Regions from separate parts of the Homo sapiens genome. Here region 1 is linked to region 2. A link means that fine-mapping ties the variant in region 2 to the expression of a gene that starts in the linked region. Tissue or cell type: whole blood. Region 2 holds a variant in brackets; the other region holds the start of a gene. All regions are shown on one strand. Distances are from middle to middle.

What was found. PIP is the estimated chance that this variant, and not a neighbour inherited with it, causes the effect.
Region 1: it holds the start of MCTP2, and the variant in region 2 is fine-mapped to the expression of MCTP2 in whole blood (TOPMed, PIP above 0.99).

The regions. Positions count from the first base shown.
Region 1 is chr15:94,226,630-94,234,816 of GRCh38, reverse strand. MCTP2 (multiple C2 and transmembrane domain containing 2) reads right to left here and starts at 3,256. Exons shown (of 23, transcript NM_001385001.1): 1 at 3,153-3,256. RefSeq lists a silencer at 3,197-3,326 and an enhancer at 4,862-5,001.
Region 2 is chr15:94,401,302-94,409,488 of GRCh38, reverse strand. It overlaps MCTP2 (multiple C2 and transmembrane domain containing 2), which reads right to left. Exons shown (of 23, transcript NM_001385001.1): 17 at 7,470-7,589. Among named protein-coding and RNA genes, the nearest start is that of MCTP2, 170 kb to the right of the region's middle. The variant G/A (reference allele first, on the strand shown) is at 4,963.

The DNA.
Region 1 (8,187 bases), 170 kb after region 2:
AATCAGCTCCATGAGACTGGGAGTTCTTGACAATCAGGACTTCGCCTTACTCAGGACTTGGGACATTAGAAAACTCCCAATAAATGGTGACTGATAGTTGGAAAAGCCAATGGCCAAAGGCATCCCTGAGAAACAAACCAACCTGGAAAGTCTTGAAGACCAGCTCTCAGAATTGTTCGTTGGACATGAGTGTCCAGAGTGTCTCTGCTGTCCCATCCAGCAGTCTCTTCTCTGCTCAGTGGAGCATGAGTCCTTTGCCTTTAACCACAACTTTCCCTCTCACTCTTTGAGGGTAACAGAGCTTCAACTTTGGGCTTCTCACTAGCAGGGCCCCCCGTGGGTGTGACAAGCTGCTGGGAAATGCTGAGTGTTCTCAGGGAGAGGGGAAGCCGGATTGCAATCAGCACTCCTGTTTTTGTAAGCATTTCTGGTAAATTGCCCAAGATCTCCACAGAAACAGGCAGAAATCTCCAGTAAATTATCATCTCTTTTTCTCATTTTAAATACATATTCACTTTCACACCTAATTTTGTATTAATTTTCTTAAAGAGAGTCTCCAAATTGTTTACCTTTTAGGCCTCACAAAACTTGGAACTGCCCCTGCTTCATATCCCCTACATACTCTCCTCCTTCATCACCCACCCTGGTTCCCCATGAGAACACCTTACCAGGTCAGGCACACTTTTATAAACACCTTCTAGGAAGGACTTAACAGCTCAGCTCCTAAAGAGGAGTTTAAGGTGTCTGGCTGTTTCACCTCCACGTGAAGATAGAGGGAAAAAAAAAATCTGTGCCAAGATTGACGCAGGCAAAATATTCTACCTGATCCTCGCTTCACGGGCAAAGCCTTTTCTCAACAGTTAACTGGCAACAATTCAAGGTAATTTAAATATAAAACCCCTTCCATTTCTGTGTGTAATTACCAACAATTACAAGAAAAGTTTTAAGAAAGCAAGTGTTTTCCACAACAAGAAATATTATTTGAATTCAGAGTACTATTTTTCACTCACTTTCCATTCTCCACAGTATAATAATTTTAATTTGAAAATTACTTTCCTGGTTTACATGCACTTAAAGAAATTGTCAGTTGTTATAAATCCTTTATGCAAAAGTCAAATAAGGAACTTGATTCCTCGCCAGATCATCACATTGCAGTACTCTACAATTTCCAGAAGTAGTACTTCTGGAAATAGGTTTAAGGAAAAATATATATTCGTGTGTGAGCACAGGTTTACACAAACACAAAGTCCTTTCCAGGTGACAAGAGACCGCTAATCATCTTGCAGCTGTAAGAAATCAAGCTGAAATTGATTTCAAAGCCCACTCAGCTGAGAAACTCACCTCTGCAGGAGGAGACCATAGTAAAGCACACCAATAATAGGAAATTAGCTGTTCCTTCCATGTATAACACAGAGAGAATATATATGCAATTTTATTAATTGGCCCTGTTTGGATATATCAGGCCTTTCAAAATATGTTAAGAGACATAATAAATTTTATCTTTTAACATATTTTGAAAGGCCTTTCAAAATATGTTAAGACACATAATAAATTTTATCTTTTAAAGCTACATCTACTAGTCACAGATAGGTCACAGCTTGACCACACAAGTGCAATGAAAACAGTGCTCACTTCATTCCTGAGGACTACTTTAACTCCATTAATCCCCAGGAGATAGGATCTATGAATATAAATTTGAATTCTTATATTAAATCTGCCGGATTTACACTCTCCATCTTAGAGACAGCATGGAATAGTGAAAAAGTACGAGTTCTGCACTCAGAAATAGCCACATGCAATTTCTAAATTCACCACTGACCTTGTACAAATTACTGGACTCCTCTCTGCCTCAGTTCCTTATCTGCACAGGGGAATAGTATCTACTTTGTAGATTTCATAGACAAGACAAAGTGCCTAGCATGGTGCTTGGCACAGAGCTAATTCTTAATAATCTTATTTTAAGCATGGTTTTGACAATTTTTATTGCTTTGGAATGACTGATCAGGCTAATGACAGAGACTCTTCAAAGATTTACATTCTCCCTGCATTTAAATACTTATAACCAGCGATTACACAGGTGCTGCTGAGGCAAAGCGCAGCACCATTGGTCTCGTTCTAAACACCCACCTGTGAGGAATAAGTGCCTTAAGATTCCCCTTTGTATTAATATCAACACCTGTGCTACCCAACAGCACACCAGCCCGGCTCTCAGAGGTCTGCCCGTTAACAGGTGTACAATAAATATTTGTTGAATTGAAATGCTACTGACTCAAGCAAAAAATGAATGCTAATGTAAATTATAATCCATACAAATCCTTCAATAAGTGGTGTCTGAATTCTGTGCGTCCTGAAGCAAGTGTTCTAACGTCTCACGGTTCACTGAGAAGCTGCTTGGTACCTTAAGGGTTCGCACCCTTGTACCTTCCAGACCAAGCTCTTGTAAGCATCTAGAGGAGGCTGAAACCCTCAGTCAGCATCGCACAGAAGTTCATTCAGACTAGAGAAAACCTCTTTTATGGCAACCCAATCATTTAAAAAAAGCCGTCAGCACATTTGCTTAACAAATGGACAGTGCAGGAGGGAACTAATTGCGGAAACTAATCGCCACTCAAGTTCACCACCAACATCACTGTCTTTATTTTTAACTTACTTATCTTCAGTGGGATTGAGACACTGTTTGTTACCTACGCAATTATCCCAAGGATTTCTGCTCCGGTGTCGTTGAGCAAATGTCAGCGCAAAGAATTAAAGTTGAACCTCCGGGTCTCTACGAAGAGAGCGTATTAAAGCCCACCCAGCTGAGGAACTGACCTCTGTGGAAGGAGTCCTGGATGTGGCGGTGACTACCTCCGTAGCGCCCCGGGGAGACTGAATGTGTGGCCTTTAAAATGCAAAGAAATTCTGGGCCAGGCTGCCCTCCCCTAGTGCGCCTTCCAGTACGCCACGCCTGGATTTCTGCCTCCAGTCCTCAGGACACCTTTCTGATCTCTGAACCACAAGCAGCTCCGGGGTAGTAGCGCCACTGAATTCTCATCCTGGACCCTCCAGCTCCCCAACTCCCAGCTTCGGTTGAGAGAAGACGCCCACCCCCAGGCGGCGACCGTGCTGCCCGGCCCACGCGCGCTGCCAGGTGAACCCGGCACCGCCCTCACCTGTGCGAGGCCGCGTTCGGGGGCTGCAAAGCTGGGCAGGCGCGCGCCCCTCACCTGCACCGGACCCGCTGCAGTCGCCACTCGGAAGCGCAGGGAGCAACCCTGACGCGGCGGGGGCGGGGGCATCACCGAGGGCCCCCGGACTTCCTCGGGCCCCCCCACCGCCCTTGCGAGCCCCGCCTAAAGGGGAGGAGGCGGCCGCGCGTCACCTTTGAGCAGCCTCCGACCCAAGCGCCCGCGCTGCCGCCGGGAGCTCGGCCGGGTGTTGCAAGGAGGCGCTATGCTTGGTGCTGGGCACTGGCTGGGCGTAGAGAAGGCGATTACTTGTAACTCATTCGTTTGGGTTGGCTCACAGGAAAAGGAAGGTGTGTCCAAAAAGTCCGAAGTGAGGAAATAGGACGAGGATGGCTTGCAAACTCGTAAAGTCTTAATAAGCTGTCTTCGCTGATACTCAGAAGGGTTCTCTTCGCTCCTGTAGGTCCCTAATAGATTCATGGGAAGACAGCAGCCTCCCTTTGTAACGCCCTGACCCTGGGAAGAGGTACCCGAGCCAGACAGCCTATTAACCTATGCCACGTGTGCGCGACTGTGGGTGGAAGATGCCCGCCCAGATCCACAGAACTGTTTCCTGAGCCTTGGTGCCTCATCTATGAGATAAGGCCGGCGTACTGCTCAGCAAGCCGTCCCGAGTACTCGGCAGAGAACCCTAAAGACCCTCCCGTGCGATTGTTGGCACTCAGCGAATATTTGCTATTTATTTCCCCTTTCCCTTACTTTCTTTTTCTACTTTTTTTTACGCCGCTTTCCTGCTGTAATTGTCTTATTGCACTTTGTTTGCTCGGTTTCACTGCCTGGTCAGTTTCTTTTCCCGTCTATGAACGAGCCTAAGTCTGTGCGCTCTAGGAATTTGGGTGGATTAGGAAAAGAAATGTATGATCCATGCCTTCTGGGAGATCAGGGACTCATCTCTGGGAAATAGCATTTTTAAATTAGATACAAGAGAGTTACAGAAAATAACCTTAAAACGGGAATGGGACCTCTGGGAATAGGCGAGCTCTGAAATGAAGCGTTTAGTTGGTGTCACTGGTGATTAAGAGCTCCGGCTTTGGAGTCAGACCTCAAATCAAATTCTGCCTGGGCAACTAATTGTGTAAATGGACGAGTTCACTTAACCTCTCTAAATTTTAACTTCAACAAACTGGTTGTTTAAATAGCTTAAAATAGCTTAAATAGCTTAAAATAATAGCTATCTCATACTTTCTGAGAAATTAATTAGGTAATTCACATAAAATCCTCATTACAGTGTCCTGGGCCATGGTAACCACTTAATAAAAGTTAGCTATTAACAATACTAAGGTAGGAAATGGGAGGAAGGGGCATAAAAATTTAGAAAACATGAGGACGTGATAGAAAACAGCTGCCACTGTCATGCAATTCCGACTTACAACAATAGCTACCACTGAGGAACACAACTTCGCACCAGTTTCTGTGATTGGCATGTAACACGTGATCATATTGAATTTTCACAAACCAGGAGACAGTTAATAAAATCTCTGATTCAAGATGAGGAAAATGAGCATCAGAACCATGAAATAACCTGCCTGAAGCTATGAGTCAAGTTAGTAGCCGAGTCAGAGCAAGCTGAGGCCTATGGCAAAATTGGCTTTTCCCACCGTGCCGAAGGTTACATCCCCTAGCAGAGAACAGAGAGAGGTAAGGGTAAAACAGCATGAAAGGAAGAAGAGAAAGAGCAGTAGGCAGACGAAGCAATCATACCTTTAAAGCTGACTAAGAATACAAATGAATTAAAATAGTAAGTGAACCCACACAAAAGCTTTTTTGCCTTTAACTCCTGCCCCAGTGGAGTTCCTGTTCTGTGGTTCCGGCAGTCCAACCGCATTTTTCAATCATTAAATGGTATAGAAAGTGAAACAACTAAAGATACAGAAATCTAAGGTCACAACTTGCCCTTCCCACCACAATACACTCATCTGCCCAGCTTCCTGGGTTTTTTGTTTTTAATTGTTCAAACATATTACCTGTCTCCTTTTCTATGTTCCACCCAGGAAATGTCCCTTCCAGGGAATAATATTGTTGCTTATACCAATTTAACTTTACTACATAACCACACCAGCATTTAGAATGGCAACTGGACTCATACATGTAGCTGATAAATTTTTAACACACTTTTGTTATATTGAATTTCTCTAAACAGATTTTGAACCAGGTCTTACATTATAGGCACTGGTCAGTGATGTCATAATTATACTTAAAAAAAAATAAAATCTCCTGCACGTATCATAGGCAGCTTTCTCTCTCTTCTGAGCAACCAGATATTTGGCCTCTGAAGAAATGCCCCTATTGTCAATGTGATAATTGAGGTGGAGATTTCCCACTTTCAGATACAATTGCTTTTATATCTTAGACAATGTATGTTTGGTTGCATGACAATCTAATATTGGCACCTCTTCTTTTAAATTGTAAATGGAAGATGTGTCTTCTGAAGGCCCAGTGTACTCCTTGGCTATCATGGCTATACTGCCTGTCATACATGCAGAAGCACGGTTAAGTGCATACAAAGGCTAGATAACAATTAGTGCAGTTATCTAGCCACGTCCCTGTGCCTTTTTGAATGAGCCAGAGTATTTCAAATGAAACAAATGAAAATTGCTGTAGCCACCCAGAGTCTTTGACAATGAGGGTTAAAGCAGTCTTCTCTAAAGAAGACAAGACCCTGTCTGTAAATGCATAGGATCTAGAGTTCCATATCTTCTCTGCTCAGTGGGAGCCTCCTTGGGTCATCCTATCAGAGTTGGCCATGCAGTCAACACAGTCTGGCTCCATTTGGAGGACACAGAGCTAATCTTGCTGGGACAAGTCCCTTTATGTCAAAGAGAAAGCTGTCTGAGATCTGCTAGCAGTAATGTAAGGGCTTGGCACCTAGCTTCCCTCACATTTTCCTTCGTTGGTGCTTCTCATCATTTCTGGGCCGATAAGAGCAGAAGTAGAAAAATGACTGAGACATAAACATGTCAATTTAGATCTACCAGGGGTTAAAACGAATATAATGGTTAAAGCAAACTTCAGTCTATTGTCCAAGTAACAAATGTTTATTTTAGTGTGTGCTTTAAGGAAGAATATGCACTCTGTTACGTGGCGTTGAGAAATGGTACTTCTTTTATTGTTAGTGCAAATAGTCTTTGTTATTATATGTACTCAGGATTTTTTTTCCTTTGGTATAATTATCATGTTATCCCCTTTTTATAGGCAGGTGTGGAGAGACCAAATTTAGTGACTCACTCCAGACCTAGCTCTGCCACTTACTAGTTACGAGTTTATCCTGTAGGCTTCACTTTCTTGAACAAAAGAATGGACCTAACAGAAAATGAGTCCTATTCTCTAATTATTCAGAAAGACTTCTTATAAAATCTCTTTGGAAATCAACATCAGCATTGAATTGTCCTAATGATGATTCTATGTATCAAGTTCTTTTCTTTCAAATACCTAAACATGTATTTAACACAAGCTGATTAGCTGGAAATGTTCACAGGTAGTAAGTTGTTCAAAGATCGACTTTTATGGATGTTGTACCTTTATTGGGTGGGAACTTTTATGGCCAAAATGAACATCTGGTAGTGGTTGCTTCTGAAAAGTTAAAATTATTAGAGGCTTGGAGTTAACTCTTAAGAGACTGAGTCTGCCATTCATTAGATGGGTAAAGAAGAACCAAATTTACTTCTTCAGATGAAGGTTAACTTTGCCCAAGATTACTATCTCAGTACCAACATTTTTGTCTGACGATCTGAATTTCATTCAGTTAATTGCTTAAAACTTCCCCTAGGCCAGGGGAGAGGTTCATACTGTAGAGAATTTCTGTGGCCCCAAATCACATTTATTGAATTGTTCTCTAGTGTGTTGTCATTGGCAATAGTGGGGGGTATCTTAAGAATCTACCTTGGGAAATACGTTGTTGAACATACATTTGGCATGTTGGTCGGGGTCATTGTTTTTTAAAATTACACTGCCTGTTTTAAGATGATCCAAGGTAGAAGTTATCACTCATCTCAGATACAAAAATCTTGAGCTTTTCCACAACAAATGGTTTGTTTGCATCTTATGGGTTCTGCAAATAACACAGTTGAATTTGTTTTCCTCTCTAATTGAGCCACTAGAATGCACAGAGTGGCTCACCTCTGGCAAGTATTCAGAAATGCTTATTTGTGCATTGCACATTACAGTTATCTGTTTTTCTACCTGTATTTTCCAAAATGAGAGATGAAACTAGGGGAATTTTCAGGACAAGAATATTTAGATAACAATCAATTCTCCATGCAAAATAAGAAGTACATTCATTGATGTATTCATTCACATAATTAGCATGTATTCATCATCTACAACCAGGACCACAAACTAGGGTGCCTACATGGGTGAGACTGGTGAAATAGAGATTGACTGTGGTCACATATAAGAAGATAGAGACTGTGGCAAATAGCAGAGAGTAGGCCCACCTAAAGACATTCAAATTTACTTATTGTTAACCCTGTGCTGGCTAAAAAATACAGGTGGCCGAAAGCCTGGCAACCAGTTTGAATCCCCTGATCCATATATTAAGCTCTGTGATAAACTCTGTGGATATAACACAAATATGATAGCTTCTGCCCTCCAATGGCTCACATTTTCGCTAGATGTGTAAACAGATAAACACAATAGAGTGTCAGAGTGAAGAGGCCTTGATAGTAGCACCTGCAGAGCCCAGCAAGTGGTGTAAAAAACCAGGTAGAAAATACACCAGAGAATCAGCAGAAACCGGGACCCCAGTCAGTCCCAAGTGATGAAAAAAGGGAGTCTTCATGGGTGAAACCTGGCTTACACAATTGAGATAAGTACAGACTCAACTGGCAGACAAAGATCAGTTCAATAAATGAAGCCAGCCATCTAGCAGTATTTCCATAATCTTAATCAGAAAATCAAAATATAGACAAATGTGGAGAAATAATAACTATGTCTATGGCTGAGGACATTAACAAATTTTGGA
Region 2 (8,187 bases):
GAGATGGAACTAATGGAATAGGAATATATATATATTCATATTTGAGTATTATCATAGCCTTGAGGTAGAGCTCTGCTTGGCATCTGGTGGTTAATATATATGAGTTTATTAAGTATTATCTCACACAATCACAAGGTCCCACAATAGGCCATCTGCAGGCTGAGGAGCAAGGAGAGCCAGTCCGAGTTCCTCAACTGAAGAACTCGGAGTCCGATGTTCAAGGGCAGGAGGCAACCAGCATGGGAGAAAGATGTAGGCTGGGAGGCCAGGCCAGTCTCTGTTTTCACATTTTTCTGCCTGCTTATATTCTAGTTGCACTGGCAGCTGATTAGATGGTGCCCACCCAGATTAAGGGTGGGTCTGCCTTTCCCAGCCCACTGACTCAAATCTCCTTTGGCAACACTCTCACAGACACACCCAGGATCAATACTTTGTATCCTTCAATCCAATCAAGCTGACATTCAGTATTCACCATCACAGAATCCTGAAAAGAAAATTCAGAGAAGGCAGAAAATATGTGCTTGCAAGTGCACACCAACAGAAAGCTCAGAAAAGGCAGTGGTAGTGACACAGGGTCCCACGCAGAGCCTGGACCTACACACAAAAGGGGGAGCTAACCATTTACATCTACCAGGCTATGTGAATATGGCTGTGCTATGATTACAATAATTGAGATCTAATGTTTACTAGTCAAAATTGGAATGCTCCAAAAGAATAAGTGATTTCAGTCGATCTAGCTATGATTCTGTCTGGAATCACAACTCACAAAATTGAAAATATAAACATGAAAATATGCTAAAATAGTTAATAGTGTCCTTTTAAATTTTTAACAGATAATCTTTTTAATGCGATTACTGTAATTTTATTAAATTGCATAATTAGTTAATGCCTGAGAACCTGCCAATAGAAGGTGCAATTATGTTGTAAAAATTATGCTCACAATATGCAATGATGGATTGTTCCTATTTTAAAAAAGTGCTGAAAAAAACTTTAAAACATTTTGAAAGTATATTATGTAGTCCTTCATGAAAAGGAAGACTAGGGAAACTATCTTATATATGTTAAAACCATAAGATGCCAAATATTTTAAGCATTGAATATACCTATATATTTTGCATATATGTGTATATGGTTCTGTGTGTGCACTTATATATACACACTTTTAAGATGTCTAAAACCCCTCTTCTTCTGGTTATTGTAACTGAAATTTCTTTTTTCCAGCTTTACACAAATACTTTTAATTTTTGAGCATCAACTGCACACACACCTAGCAAATGGGCAGCGATGTCTGCTCTGCACATCCAGTTGTGACTTCTGGTGGATGTCATAGCCAATGAAAGAGCTTAATGAAATGCAGGTGCATTTCGTTGTGAGTAAACTGGTGACAGAACTTAAAGTAAATCTTTTAGACACAGTTAACACATAAATATCGAAAGCATCAAAAAGACATTTGACCAGCATTATTTAATGAGTCGAATCTCAAAACAGTGTTGCATTTGTCATTTGTACCAAAGCAAAATGAATCTGAATGTTTTTCGGTCCACAGAGAAATCATGGAAAACAGCAGTCCTCAAGGCCTTGCCTTTGGTTTTTACTAAACTGCTTTCACAAAACATTCAACAGAGCAACTTTTAATTTCCCAAATGTCCTCTGCTTCTTCGTGTTCATGCATGTGTGTGTGTGTGTGTGTGTGTGTGTGTGTGTGTGTGTGTGCACAAGTACATGTGTGTTGGAAGGGTTGGCTCTATTACTGCTACTGTTGTTTTTAAGTTCTATGTGAAATTACTTCACATTTTCTCAATATTCTAGGATCTCTAAAAGCTAAAAATTCTATATATGTTAAATATGGGATATTACCAAGCGAGTGGACAGTTGTATTTTTTAACTTTATTGAGGGAGAGGTTGATTGATGCTTTAATTTGTGTATCATATTTCAGTCCTTGTCAACTCTGAAAAGTAAATTCTTTATTTCCCTATACTCAAAAAATCGGAAAAAAGTCACAGATGTTAAAATCATAGCTTTATGAAGATACTCGTTGATATATGGTAGATTTAGATTACTTTTTAGATCAAACATCCAAGTAAAAATTTAATAAAGCAAAGAATCCATCAATGCCCCACAAACTTGCCTCCCTTGATACAATAGGTGTGTGCCTGAAATATCGGTGGAAAAATGAAACTGCATAAATGCAATTCTATGTTAAAAGCATCAGAACTTTGCTGTTTAAAATCACCTTCTGATGATGCCATCTGTCAAGTAAATAATATTTTAACATATGAAAAATGCATTTATATAATAATATAACTTTAGGACTTTTAATAGACAACATTGGGGTTTATAAAATATAAGTATGTCATAACAAAACACCCATACATGATTGGATCTACCAATATAAATATCACAATGCAAAGTTATCTTTTGAGAACAAATTTATCTTTATTATGATCAAATAATGTATTTGCACTGAGACACTGGGTATATAAAATAGAGATCCCCACTAGACATATGGGCCTATCTCTTTTATAGCTATTATTTCAAGATATTTTAAAGGAACATAAGGGGTGGTTATTCTCTTCTACCCCATCCCTTTTCTGAACAACTTGGAATACTTAAAAAAAAAAAAAAAAAACAACTGAAAAGTCCAATGCCTTCCATGATCCCTTCCACTAGTTGTTTTCTGTTTTTACTTTCTTCTCCCCTTGAAAATCCCTCTACATCATCTAAAAGCATTCCTCAAAGGTGGGGAAAAACAAGTCAGACTGTAATTTGGGACTCAGTCTAGAACCAAGGCTCTAGGGTTTTTCAAATTATCCAGCTGGATTCCAAGGATGCCAAATGCATGTGATGCCCAGGGGCTGGGCATTTCCATGTTTGGCTTCTTTAATTTTGGTCTCATCATCACTTGTGAATAAAATAACTGAGCTAAAGAATTATTCTCGCCCATGTAATGAGGGTTTCTTTCCTGTATAGCATCACAGCTTGGAACAGGCTTAATCCCCACACATAATATCTAAATACAGATCTGAAACAATCAGTATGGTTGGTCCCGGTGTCACTATGTAAATACAAGGACAACAAACATTGCATCCTGGGCATCAGTGAGAGGCAGAATAGCTGAAGGGTTAAGCCTGCACAGACTAAAGCAAGATGGCCTGGGTTTCAATTCCACCTCTACCTCATACACACACATGAGCTCTGTCACTGTACTTGACCTCTATAGGCTTATTTTTCTCATCTGTAAAAAGAAGATAGTAATCACCACCTACATCAGCAGGTTGTTGTGAGAACTAAATTTATAAAATCCTTGGGACAGTGTCTAAGCACTGAAATAACATGAACTATGAATAATAGTTCAAATAGTCAAAATCTGTGTGGGAATGGCCATGTACACGTCTTGTGTATGTATATAAATGTATATACATGTGTATAAAATACCACATATATTTACAAATCTATTCATAGGGAAATATACAGGTGCACTTACTTCAAGGCAAAATATTTCAGTTCTATTTGGCCTCATTCACTAAGTCAACATCTCATATTAATTTGTTTTTCAAATGGGAAAGTCAAGAATGTTACTTTCTGAAGGAAGAAAAAAGAAAAAATATATCCTTAATTTAATATAACTAAGTAAACCTTAGAAAAGGCAAGATACCAAAATATCTGAAAAACATAGGGGAAAGAGAAAGACCCAGAAGACAAAATGAGAAAGATTTTCAATGTTCATCCTAACAAGAAGAACTGAGTCTATAGAAACTTGACTTGGAATGGTCTGACCACCCTACAAATGCCCATGTTTAATTTCTTATGATAACAATAAATTCAACACTATGCAGCAACATTAACATAGCAGGTGCATTACTGATAACTTTCTTCTCTCATGTTGGGAATACAACCACTCCTGTAAGTGTAGCAGTGATAAATCGCATGGTAGAGGAAGGTGATGCTTGGGTCATCTAGCAAGGTGAGTTCTCTCACGTTTGTCCATCCACTTCTGACGAGACACCATGCGGACCTAGATCTTAAGAGCCTGCTTTTCTTTAACTGCTGCTTTCAACAAGATACGATTATGTTCATGCACATGTACATAGGCATCCATGGAAAACGTATGGTTTGCTTTCATAAAGTCTTAAAATTGACATTGAGAATAGATTAAACATGATTCTGCAATGTTCATGTTTGTATCACCTGGAGCTAGAGTCTAGAACATAAAGTTAATATTTTATGTTTTCTCAAAAAACAGAAGAAAAACACATCCCTTCAGTTCTGCCCTTAGTTTGTTGTGTTAGCATCACTTCCTGTACTGTCACAAGAAGAAAAGCCCCACCAGGGACTGGTTCAACTAAAATAGCTCCTTTCACACCTGTGTAGCAAACCCTCAACTATCACATTCGCTAATTTCAATTAGAGGACCTGACTACGGGTCATTTAATAAATCCTTGGCTTAAAACCTTGCTTCAGACAGCGCCTCTGTTCTGCCCTGTCATGCCAAGGCGAGCAGTTGGAACATGAACAAAGTGTCACAATGACGAATAAAGACACCAAGCAGCATTCTGTCAACAGATCACAGGAGAACATCCGTCAGTGTGTGTCACCCCTGACAGATATGGCAGTTGCATAGTGAAGAAAGGCAGAGGAGAGCCTGGGCTTGAGGATCCAACATTTTGCAGAAAGACAACCCATCATGAAGCCCCACAGACTCGGGGACACAGCACTACAGCCAGGGCAGCCCCCTAGGTGTGCAACCCGCCCCGCCAATCCAGTCCCCTACAGACAGCTAACAGGTCTACAGGCAAGGTACATAAATGAAGGCGTTTTCAAAGAAAAGGACATGAAAGCTTGGCTACCCATAATCTTACCAAAAGAAGAATGAAAGAAGATGAAACGGAGGCCAGGTGCGGTGGCTCAAGCCTGTAATCCTAGCACTTTGGGAGGCCGAGATGGGTGGATCACAAGGTCGA[G/A]GTTCAAGACCAGCCTGGCCAATATGACGAAACCCCGTCTCTACTAAAAATACAAAAATTAGCCGGGCATGGTGGTGCGTGCCTGTAGTCTCAGTTACTTGGGAGGCTGAGGGAGAAGAATCGCTTGAACCCGGGAGGCAGGGGTTGCAGTGAGCCAAGATCGTGCCTCTGCACTCCAGCCTGGGTGACAGAGTCAGACTCTGTCACAAAAAAAAAAAAAAACAATAAAAAATAAGAGATGAAACTGAAATACATTTATTATTCTGTCTCAAGAAAGCATTTTCTGTATAGCCTCTCATTTTAATAGCAGAAATGGTTTTGGAATAATCATAATAGGAATAAAAAAACAACTTTTAATAAAATTACACTTCATCAACTTAGGGAGGGGAATTATCCACCACGTTATGGCTGCGGTATTTCTGAGAATCACCAAGGCCAGTCAACATACACATGGTCTAAATTTTTGGAAGTAGAGTTTTAAATTAAAACTGAAAACGAGTTTAAGTGAGCACTTTTATTCCAGTACTTTCAGGACAACCAAATGATAGGCTGTAGGTATATAGCGTATCTAACTGGCTCTGCATTTTTTTCAATGGTGTCCAATGAGAAATGTCCCTATACACACAGTCGCATATACCCATGGATCCTTGCAAAATCATACTTTGGAAAACCAGCAAGGAGAACACCACCTTGATCTTCCTTGCTGTGGGCCTCAGAGATCTGAGAGTACAACATGGCAGCCTGCATTCTCCAGCGTGGGGGCGGGCTCTGCTCCGAGGCATGAAGCTCAGCAGTGAGGAATCCCTCAGAGAAAAGGCCGTGGAGAAGTGGCTCCATTTCTAAGCCTCCCTTCCTGTTTAGAAGTCCCCTCTATTAGACAACCTATTTCTATTCATCTGTTCTAATCTTTCTTCAGATCAAGCCAGCAGCCCATTAATCATTTCTGTCATCTCCCTACAGAATCCAGGGCAACAGATCTCTGTTTTTCTAAAATCACAGTGCCAGAAACTAAACTCGAGAAAGAGGAAATCCTCTCCTCCTCACAGTGGCTGTCTGGGTGCTGACTGGAAGAAGCCACCAATTGTGTTCACTTTCCTCTTTTGCCCAGAATTGCATAGAACATTCCATGGAAAGTTTTGAAAGGGAATTCGGGTGGGAAGTGGAGCTGGGGAGGTTGAAGGGGAACTCAACGCATGAAGCCACCAGCTGAGGAGAACGTGAGAAAGGGAAGTGGATAAACAAATGCTGAGACAATGACGGATACAGATTAATAAAACCTTTATTAGTGTTTTTATTAAGGCCAAATGTTTTAGCAACTTCAGACAGCAGAAAAAGTATAGGAAAGGTCAAGCCTACAGGCAGCATAGGTCCTCTACACCGAAGCAGTGGAGAACTAAAATAAACGACAGCAAACAAAATACCCCCCAATGGCAAAGGAAAAGCCTCTTTTGGAGCTGATATACTTGATGGCATAAAAATGTTGGGAGTGACCTTGAACCCATTGGCTTCTTGGGCTAATAAATGTTTTTTTTCCCCCATTTTTTATATGAGGCTATGCCTGTTGGCTAAGAGAGAACATTCAGCATATATTGGCAGTAGAAAACAGAAGCAGAACCACATAACATTCAGAAATCAGATTCACCAATGATCATGACTGATATTCACACTCTTAGACCACTCATACCTCGTATTAGTTTTTATAGTGATCTTTGCACAGGACAGAAATGAATGGCATGATACCAAATATACAAAGATTTGCAGTCGGGAGACTTGATTTCTCCTCCCATGGCTGACATTACCAATTTGATCAAGGACAAGTCCCTTTACAAATGAGAGAAAATGCCCTGAGATATAAAGTGAAGGCATGAGGCCAGCTGTGAAGTCCTTCCAAGATTCTTGGGCTCTCAGTGGTAGACTTAGGTGGTTTTAAGATCTCTTGCAGCGCTTTGATTCTGCGATTTTATTATGCTCATAAGGATGGGCCAATGTCACCAGAGAAAAGGGTACATTTCATAGACAGGGGTGGTTCCTCTTTGCGGTGCTGAATGAAATTGCAATGTGTAATGATCAGTATGTCCCAACTGGCTTGAAATGAATAAACATCTTTAATATCAAAGTTTGGGAATAATTTACTTAAAATGTAAATTGAACAATTCAGTTATTATTTAGTCCTGTGATTTTTCAGATGCCATTTTTCAGAAATTATGGGCGGTCACTGGCACAGAAAGAAAAAAAATACACACAATGCAGGGCTATACAAATGTAGCTGTAACAACAACTGGAGAAACATTTAAACATATATATACAACAGTAGTGCTCTTAAATTTACCAAGAGACCATATATGACTAAGATTTGGGTAATTTAAGGGGTTTCCCAGGTAAATTTGACCTAAGTACTGTCTTAGAAAGACAACCCCCACGTAATCACCTACGCTGTAATATATTTCAGAAAGATGAATAGATGCAAATAAGAAGCAAATAGTTTGAACATAAGAAAGGAAGCTTACCGCGAATGCTATTGTACTTCTTAATGTGGATTCCCACTGGAAGCAGCTTTTAAGGAACTGCATTGTATTCCATATTGCCATAGTGATTCTTTTCACACGGTCCACATCTCTTGATAAGATCTGATTTTAAAAAATGACAAACAGGAAACTAGATTTAAATACTACAAATATTCCATCTAGATCAGGTACCCTGATCATTTAAATTATATTTTGTATAGATCCCAATTTTAAAATATGATAATAATAGAAAGGAGAAGACCTGACACTTCTAAAAGTCTTTTTAAAATATGATCATCCATAGAGGAAATGAGAATCAAATGCATTTTAGCGCTCATCTGAAAAAGAATAGCCTGTTTCAACAATGTTCAGCACAAAAATGGAACTGGTGAAACTGCAGAAGCCAGGTATTTAATGTTGGTGAATTTGTGTGAGAAAGACACATGCAGAGGCAGAGAGAGAGAGAGAACTAGAAAGAGAAAGACAGAGAGAGAGAGATAAAGAGAGATACAGACACAGAATGAGTGTCTATGTTGTTTAGTTTGGAAGCAAATGAATAGATTTACAATTAAAACATGCAAGTATTATAGCTTATCTAGTCCAGAGGTCTACAGAGTTCTGGGAAGGGATTGGAGTTCACCTTGGGCAAGTTACTTAACTTCTCTTTTACAAAATAGGGTTGATATTAGTGCTAATCTTACAAGGTGTTGAGAGAATGAAA